2 separate regions of the Homo sapiens genome follow, and region 2 is linked to region 1. Evidence: fine-mapped expression QTL. A gene starts in region 1. The other region holds a variant in brackets. All regions are shown on one strand. Distances are from middle to middle. Region 1 holds the start of ZNF500 (zinc finger protein 500). Region 2 overlaps SRL (sarcalumenin).

Evidence for each region. PIP is the estimated chance that this variant, and not a neighbour inherited with it, causes the effect. A credible set is the group of variants that fine-mapping cannot tell apart.
Region 2: its variant is the best candidate, but not a certain one, in a credible set for the expression of ZNF500 in lymphoblastoid cells (GENCORD, PIP 0.72).

What each region holds. Positions count from the first base shown.
Region 1 is chr16:4,765,148-4,769,533 of GRCh38, reverse strand. ZNF500 (zinc finger protein 500) reads left to right here and starts at 2,372. Exons shown (of 6, transcript NM_021646.4): 1 at 2,372-2,517; 2 at 3,458-3,969. The coding sequence starts at 3,556. RefSeq lists an enhancer at 1,054-1,133 and a silencer at 2,326-2,625.
Region 2 is chr16:4,226,598-4,230,983 of GRCh38, reverse strand. All of the region lies in intron 1 of SRL (sarcalumenin), which reads left to right. Among named protein-coding and RNA genes, the nearest start is that of SRL, 13 kb to the left of the region's middle. The variant G/A (reference allele first, on the strand shown) is at 2,624.

The DNA of each region.
Region 1 (4,386 bases):
CTCCAGCCACATCTCCCAATCTCTGGTCTCCATTCTGTTCCTCAAACGCACCGTGTTCTCTCCGGCCCCAGGACCTTTGCACTTTTCACTCCTGCTGTCTGGAATCCTCCCCACCGGTTCCCCAGGTTAACCCTAGGCTGCTCAACTGTCACTTCCACCCTGAAGGTATCAGGTTCCCTCTTTTACGCCGCTTGCTAACATTTGCCAAAGAAGTGATTAAACAATTCTTCGTGCAATTTTGTCCACTGTATGCCTCTCATGGTAATTTTGTCCACTGTATGCCTCTCATGGCAAGCTCCATGAAAGCAGGCACCTGCCACCACTCCATCACCCGAGCGCCTAGTTAAGGGGGCAGTTGGGAGGACTCAACGTGCAGCGTTTATGCATTTATTATGCCTGGATGAATGGTCTTGAATGAGTTACAACCTTGAGGGTTAATGTCCCCCATTAACAGATATGGAAACTGAGGTTCAGGGCGCGCAAGGGAACCGCCCGCAGTCTCGACGACAAGGACGCTGCCACCGGGAGACTGCAGCCCCTTCCTCCGAGCCCCTGGCAGTGCCGCCACTTGAGGAGACCCTCCAGGCCGCCAACCCACCCCCTCTAGAGCGCCCAGGAATCTGCCTCCGGGGAGGGCGCGGGGCGCTCTGGGAAATGTAGTCCTGCCAGCTTCCTGAATCCGGCGTCCCCAAATTTGTTTCCGGCGGGCTGAGTCCTAGCCGATGCTTTGGGAAAGACGCGCGAGATTCCGGGGGTAGATCCGGGATGCGAGGCGGGGCGCGCATGCGGGGCGGAGCTTGTGCGGGGCGGGGCGTACGTTGAGTGTACGCCTGCTGTGTATGCTGCGTTGCTGCTCACCCGAACTCGGTGCTGGGACTCTTTCCTGGGCACCCCAGGCAGAGGGAAACTCCGGATCATGTTCAACCAAAGAGGAAAAGCAGCGAGAATCCAGCATAGGAGACGGGCCTTAGGATGCCCAAGTTAGGATTAGGGGCAAACTACGTTAACCTGGTAGTTAGGAGCTGAAGTTCTGGAATCAAAGATTTGGGTTCCAATCCCATTTCTGTACTTCCTGTTTGACCTTCTCTGGGGGGTTCAATACTTAAAACTCTCAGAGCTTCAGGGTTTTGTTTTGTTTTGTTGAACCGGTAGGTCTAGTTATAGTACCTCTATTACTAAATGAGGAAGAAACGAAGTACAAATGTGTTTTGCTTGCTTGATGCTCAAGAATTGATGCGACCGGGAGCGGTGGCTTACTCCTGTAATCTCAGCACTTTGGGAGGCTGACGTGGGTGGATTGCTTGAGGCCGTTGGAGACCAGCCTGGGCAACATGGGGAAACCCCATCTCTACTAAAAATACAAAAATTAGCCGGACCTGGTGGTTCGTGCCTGTAATCCCAACTATTCGGGAGGTTAGGTAGGAGAATTGCTTAAAACCGGGCGGCGGAGGTTGCTGTGAGCCAAGGTCGAGCCACTGCACTCTAGCCTGGGCGACAGAGTGAGACCCTGTCTCTAAATAAATAAATACATACATACAAGAATTGATACCTGGCTGGGCACACCTGTAATCCTGACACTTTGGGAAGCTGAGGCGGGAAGATTGCTTGGGCCCAGGAGTTTGAGACCAGCCTAGGCACCATGGTGGGACTTCATCTCTAACAACAACAACAAAGATTGATGCCCATTATTATGTTGTCAGAAAGAAGCAGGCAGGACAAGGGATATTTGGGGTTGGACGTTGTTGGGGGCCCTCTTGGGGGAGGGTGGGCGCAAGCACTTGGCATCTCTTCCAGTTTTATCTTGAACAACTTCTGCCTTTATTTATTTTATTTATTTATTATTTATTTATTTATTTTTTGAGATGGAGTTTCGCTCTTGTTGCCCAGGCTGGAGGACAATGGCAGGATGTCGGCTCACTGCAACCTGCGCCTTAGCCTCCTGAGTAGCTAGGATTACAGGCATGAACCACCACGCCCAGGTTTCTCCACGTTAGTCAGGCTGGTCTCGAACTCCCGACCTCAGGTGATCCGCCCGCGTCGGCCTCCCAAAGTGCTAGGATTACAGGTGTGAGCCACCGTGCCCGGACGACTTTGCTGGCTTTAAAGATGGAGGAGGCGGCCAGAGGAGAGCGGAGCGGGTGTGGAACAGTGACTGGGAAAGTAGCCCAGAGGCTGCAGAGTCGCCGCACGCTCGCGCGGTCACCGAGGTGCTGGACTACGTTACCCACAATGCGTGCCTTTGAGGACCACATTAACCACAGTGCACGTCGCGGACCCGCCCACTCGGCCGTGTTGCCACGCCCCCAACGGCCGGCTTAGCCAATGGTGCCACGGCTACGTTACCCACAATGCCGCCTGCGGGCCCACCCGCACGGCCTGGTTTGCACCCCTGGTTTAGGGTCTTCGGCCCCGGCTCTGGCGTCCCTGGCTGCCAAGCCTGAGGCCCGCAGTCCTACTCCCGCCGAGACCCGCCGCTCCGGTCCTGCCCCGAACTGCCCACGGCCGGCAGCGCTTCCAGTGAGTGCGGGGGGCGCGGGGACGCGGGTCCCGGCCGAAGCTTCGATTTCGCGGCCCGCGCCAGCACCCGGGTCTGTGCCGCGGCCTCGGGTACCGCTCACCCTCCACCTGAGGGATGAGACGGGAAAGCAGCCCGGCCTGGGGGTCCCAGCTCTCCCAGGACCCTGGAATTGGGGGGCTGTCGTGACCACCCACGCGGGGGTGCCTGACGGGGCCGCGTAGGGGCTTCAGGGTTCGCCAGACCTGGACACCGGGGATCAAGTTGAGGCAGAGTCTGCAGAAAGGCCCTACTTTTCATCAGATTTCCAAAGGAACCCCTTCCATATAGGACCCACTCTAATCATGGAAAATAACGATTCTCGAGCTCTGACCGCAAACATCCCTTTTAGATTGTTTTTGTTTGAGTCTCTCTCTGTCGCCCAGGCTGGAGTGCAGTGGCGCTATCTCAGTTCACTGCAACCTCCATCTCCCGGGTTCAAGCGATTCTCCTGTCTCAGCCTCCCGAGTTGCTGGGATTACAGATGTGCTACCACCATGTCGGGCTAATTTTTGTATTTTTTGTAGAGACAGGGTTCCACCACGTTGACCAGGTGGTCAACTCCTGAACTCACGTGATCTGCCCTCCTCTGCCTCCCAAAGTGCGGGGATTACAGGCGTCAGCTACTGCCCCCAGCCATCCCTTTTAGTTCTGTCAGCAACCTGTGTGTGTAGGTCCTGTTATCATCTCTGTTTGCCCAGTGAGGAAGCAAAGCCCAGAGCCCTTCAGTAAATTACCCGGGAATTAACAGGGGGTTAATAACAAAGATGACATTCATCCACTTCCTTTTCCTTTTCCATGGTGGGGTGAGCTGGCCTTGGAACCAGGGCAGGGGCTTCCCAGGCCAAAGGGCTTATCCAGCCCCAGGGCTGCCCTTCAGATGGTTTTATCGTCTCTCCACAGGGCCCTGAAAAAAACTCTCTTCCTGTGTCTGGCCAGAGGTATAGAGAGAGACAGGTTCAACTCTAAGGCCTGAAAAGGAACAAGGCCCACCGGAAGCAATGGCCACTGTCCCTGGCCTCCAGCCCCTGCCAACCTTGGAGCAGGACCTGGAACAGGAAGAGATCCTGATTGTGAAGGTGGAGGAGGACTTCTGCTTGGAAGAGGAGCCCTCCGTGGAGACGGAGGACCCCAGCCCTGAGACTTTCCGCCAGCTCTTCCGGCTCTTCTGCTACCAGGAGGTGGCTGGGCCCCGGGAGGCCCTGAGCCGCCTCTGGGAGCTGTGCTGCCGCTGGCTGCGGCCGGAGCTGCGCACCAAGGAGCAGATCCTGGAGCTGCTGGTGCTGGAGCAGTTCCTGACTGTGCTGCCGGGGGAGATCCAGGCTCGGGTACGCGAGCAGCAGCCGGAGAGCGGTGAGGAGGCCGTGGTCCTTGTGGAAGGGCTGCAGCGGAAGCCCAGGAAACACAGGCAGCGGGTGAGTGGGGGCATTTTGACCCTCAGGTGAGGAAATGGGGCCCTGCTGCTGGGGTCTGCAGCTGCAGATTCCTTGGTCATTGGGTGACCAAGTGTGGCTGCCTGGCCCCTGAGCCCTTTTGAGGAAAGCAACTGCAAAAGATTTCTCAGCCTTGGCTAATGGGTGTCCACCCTTTGATTAACCTCATCCTACCCCAATAGCCCTTTATTAGCTAGTGCAGATGGTTTGTGAACACTGTCCTAGGGTAGGCCAAACATGTTTTTTTTTTTGAGACATAGTCTCGCTCTGTTGCCCAGGCTATGGTGGTGTGATCACCGCTCATTGCAGCCTCTACCTCCAGGCTTCAAGCAATCCTCCCACCTCAGCCTATTGAGTAGCTGGGACTACAGGCATGCACCACTACACCTGCTAATTTTG
Region 2 (4,386 bases), 540 kb after region 1:
CAAGGTGTTGGCAGGGCCACATTCCCTTTGAAAGGTCTAAGGGGGATCCTTCCTTGCCTCTTCCAGCATCCAGTGGTTGCCAGCAATTCCTGGCATTCTTTGAGTGGTAGCTTCATCACTGCACTCTCTGCCTCTGTCATCATGTGGCCTTCTCCCTTGTCTGTGTGTCCCTGTGTCCTCTCCTCATCACCTAAGGACATTGAAGATGTTGGGTTTAGGGCCCACCTAATCCAGTATGATCTCATCTTAACTAATTACATTTGCAAAGACCCTGTTTCCATAGAAGGTCACATTCTTCCTGGGTGTGGTGGCTCACACCTGTAATCCCAGCACTTTGGGAGGCCAAGGGGGTGCGGATCACGAGGTCGGGAGTTCAAGACCAGCCTGGCCAACATGGTGAAACCCCGTCTCTACTAAAGATACAAAAAAAAAAAAATTAGCCAGTCATAGTGGTGCCCGCCTGTAATCCCAGCTACTTGGGGGGCTGAGGCAGGAGAATCGCTTGAACCCGGGAGGTGGAGGTTGCAGTGAGCCGAGATCGCACCACCATACTCCAGCCTGGGCGACAGGGCAAGACTCTGTCTCAAAAAAAAAAAAAAAAATCACATTCTGAGGTTCTAGGTGGATATGAATTTTAGAGATACACTAATTTTGGGGGGCTTTCTCCTAGGGGATGGTCTTCCACTGGGTGGAGGGGGTACCTGTTTCCTTGGTCCACTTTGTTCCACAGCTCATGGGTTGCCCCCCCTGGCTGATCTGGAGCTCTGCAGACACACCCGGGCAAGTGTGTTGAATGAACAGATGGAGGACTGGCTCAGGCAGAGAATCTCAGGAGGTAGCCCGGCCTAGTAGTGGTGGTAGGTAGGAGGGTGGCTGCCCGGGTGGGGAGAATTGACCAGAATTGCCCAGTTCCTAGGGGGTGTGTCTCTGACGCAGGGTGAGGTAGAGAGGGGAAAGGGATGGAGGTCTGGGTCCTGGCTGCCTGTGTGATGAAAAGAGTAAGGGAGCAAGAAGCTGGAAGCCCAGGACCAGCTTACTCTGTGACCTGAGGCCCAGCTCTTCTTCTGCACGAGGCCCCAGCACGCAGTCCCCTCAAAGTCTTGGCCTTGGGCACAGCAGCCAAGCAGGAGATGGTGCAGGATGTGGAAGCACCTCCTCATCTGCAGAAGCTCCTCAGAGGAAGAACTTCTGAGTGAACTTTATTTTAGATTCAGGGGGGACGTGTGCAGGTTTTTTACATGGATGTAGTGCATGATGCTGAGGTTTGGGCTTTTGTTGATCTTATCAGCCAGATAGTGAACATAGTACCCAATAGGTAGTTTGTCAACACTTGTCCTCTTTCTCACTCCCCCATCTAGTAGTCCACAGTGTCTATTGTTCCCCTCTTTATGTCCATGTGTCTCCAATGCTTAGCTCCCACTTATAAGTGAGAATATGCAGTCTCTGGTTTTTTGTTTCTGCCTTAATTCGCTTGGGATAATGACCTCCAGCTGCATCCATGTTTCTGCAAACAACATGTTTTTTGTTTTTTTTTGAGACGGTGTCTTGCTCTGTCGCCCAGGCTGGAGTGCAGTGGCGTGATCTTGGCTCACTGCAAGCTCCGCCTCCTGGGTTCATGTTCACGCCATTCTCCTGCCTCAGCCTCCCAAGTAGCTGGGACTACAGGTCCCCACCACCACGCTTGGCTAATTTTTTTGTATTTTCAGTAGAGATGGGGTTTCACTGTGTTAGCCAGGATGGTCTCGATCTCCTGTCCTTGTGATCCACCCGCCTCGGCTTCCCAAAGTGCTGGGATTACAGTTGCGAGCCACTGCGCCCAGCCATGATTTTTTTTAATGGCTGGTTGGTATTCCATGGTGTAGATGTACCACATCTTCTTGATTCAGGCCACCGTTGGTGGGCATCTGGGTTGATTCTGTGTCTTTGCTGTTGTGAGTAACGCTGCAGTGAACACATAAGTGTGTGTGTGGAACCTTCTTGAATGTTGCTGAGAAGTTCACTTTCTCATGACCTCTCCCTCTCTAGAAGGAGGGGTCCCCCACTAGAAGGCTGTGTCTTCTCGCTGTGGGTGGTAGGGGTCCCAAACCCAGAGTCTGGGGTGTTTGGGCAGCCCTTGAAGCTTGTGGCTGTGGCTCAGTCCAGTTCTGGAGGGGAACAAGAGTGAGGAGACTGGTCCCCACCTTTCCCCAGCCCCGGGGTCTTCAGGCCTTTTCTTTTTCACTTTTTCTTTCTTTTTTTCTTTTTTTTTTGAGACGGAGTCTTGCTCTGTCACCCAGGCTGGAGTGCAGTGGCATGATCTTGGCTCACTGCAAGCTCCGCCTCCTGGGTTCACTCCATTCTCCTGCCTCAACCTCCCGAGTAGCTGGGACTACAGGTGCCCGCCACCACGCCTGACTAATTTTTTGTATTTTTAGTAGAGACGGGGTTTCACCGTGTTAGCCAGGATGGTCTCGATCTCCTGACCTAGTGATCCGCCCGCCTCGGCCTCCCAAAGTGCTGGGATTGTAGGTGTGAGCCACTGCGTCCAGCCTTTTTGTTTGTTTGTTTCAAGGTGGAGTCTCGCTCTGTCGCCCGGGTTGGAGTGCAGTGGTGCAATCTCGGCTCACTGCAACCTCCACCTCCC[G/A]GGTTCAAGCAGTTCTCTGCCTCAGCCTCCCGAGTAGCTGGGATTACAGGCATGCGCCGCCATATCCAGCTAATTTTTGTATTTTTAGTAGAGAGGGGGTTTCACCATCTTGGCCAGGCTGATCTTGAACTCCTGACCTCGTGATCCACCTGCCTCAGTCTTCCAAAGTGCTGGGATTACAGGCGTGAGCCACTGCTCCCGGCCTTCAGGCCTTTTCAGAAGTGGCCACCAATGGTCAGGGAGGCCCGGTCCAGGAATCCCAGGCTGCCCTCCTTAGACCAGCATCCCAGGCTCTCCTTTGGCTGTGTCCCACTGTCCTAACCACAGCCACTGTCCCCACACACCTGGCTGGGCTCCTGCAGTGTCCCACCCCAAATGACTTCACTTCCTCATGGGCTCCTTCGCTCAGCCCTTTGGGTTCACATTCCTGCTCAGGAGCTGCCCTGAAGTTAGTTCCATCTTTCTGCCTGCTTGCCTTTCCCTCCAATAAGATCTTAAGGTCTTTAAGAGGAGGCCCTGCAACTCAGCAGTTCAGTTCATGTAGCTGTCACATGATGAAAGGTGTGGAAAGCAGCTCCTCTGGGGCCTTTTAATAATGAGAAGCGGGCCTGGACAGGTTAGGTGACATGGCCTGAGGACACAGCCTACTCTTAGGCAAGCACTTCCCTGGTTCTGAATCTGGGTCCTCTCCTGTCTCTTGGAACGCAAGTGGGGTTGACGGAAGGTCTTCCATTTTGCCACCACCACCATCGATCCATCCATTCATCCATCCTTCCATTCACCCATCTGTCCACCAATCCATCCATCCACCCATCCATCATCTACCCATCATCCATCTACTCATCTACCCACCCATTCATCCCATCCACTCATCTATCCATTCATCCACCCATCATCCATTCACTTATCCACGCACCCACACATCCATCCTTCCATCCATCAGTCTACCCATCCATCAATCTCTCCATTCATCTATCCATCCACCCATCCTTCCACCCAGCCATTCACCCATCTGTCTGTCCATCCACCCATCTATCCATGCATCCACCCATCCATCCGTCATCCATCCATTTATCTGTCCACCTACCCATCCATCCATCCACCCATCCCTTCATCCATCCATCCACCCACCCATCCACTCATCCACCCATCCACCCATCTATCTGTCCGTCTGTCCATTCATCTATCCACCCTTCCATTCATCCACCATCCATCCTTGCTTTCATCCATCCTTCCATTCATCAATCCACCCATTTATCCATCCATCCATCTGTTCATCCATCCATCATCCATCCATCCATCCATCCATTCATCCATCCATCCATCAGTCCATTCTTCCATCTATTCATCCATCCATCCACCCACTCATCCACCCACACACCTATTCATCCACCCGTCCATGCATCTACTCATCCATCCACCCATCCATTCATCCTTCCATCCATCCATTCATCCATTCATCCATCCTTCCATTCATCTTCTTCCTATCCATCCTTCCATTCATCCATCTACCCCTCCATCCATCCATCCATCCGTCCATTCTTCCATCCATCCATCCATTCAGCCATCCATCCACCCATTCATCTATCATTCATCCATCCACCCATTCTTCCATCCTTCCATCCATCTGTTCATCCATATTTCCTTCCATTCATCCTTCCATTCCTTCATCCACACATTCAACCATCCATCATCCTTCCATTCACCCTTCCTTCCTTCCATCCATCTACCCATTTATTTATCTATTCATGTATTTATCCATC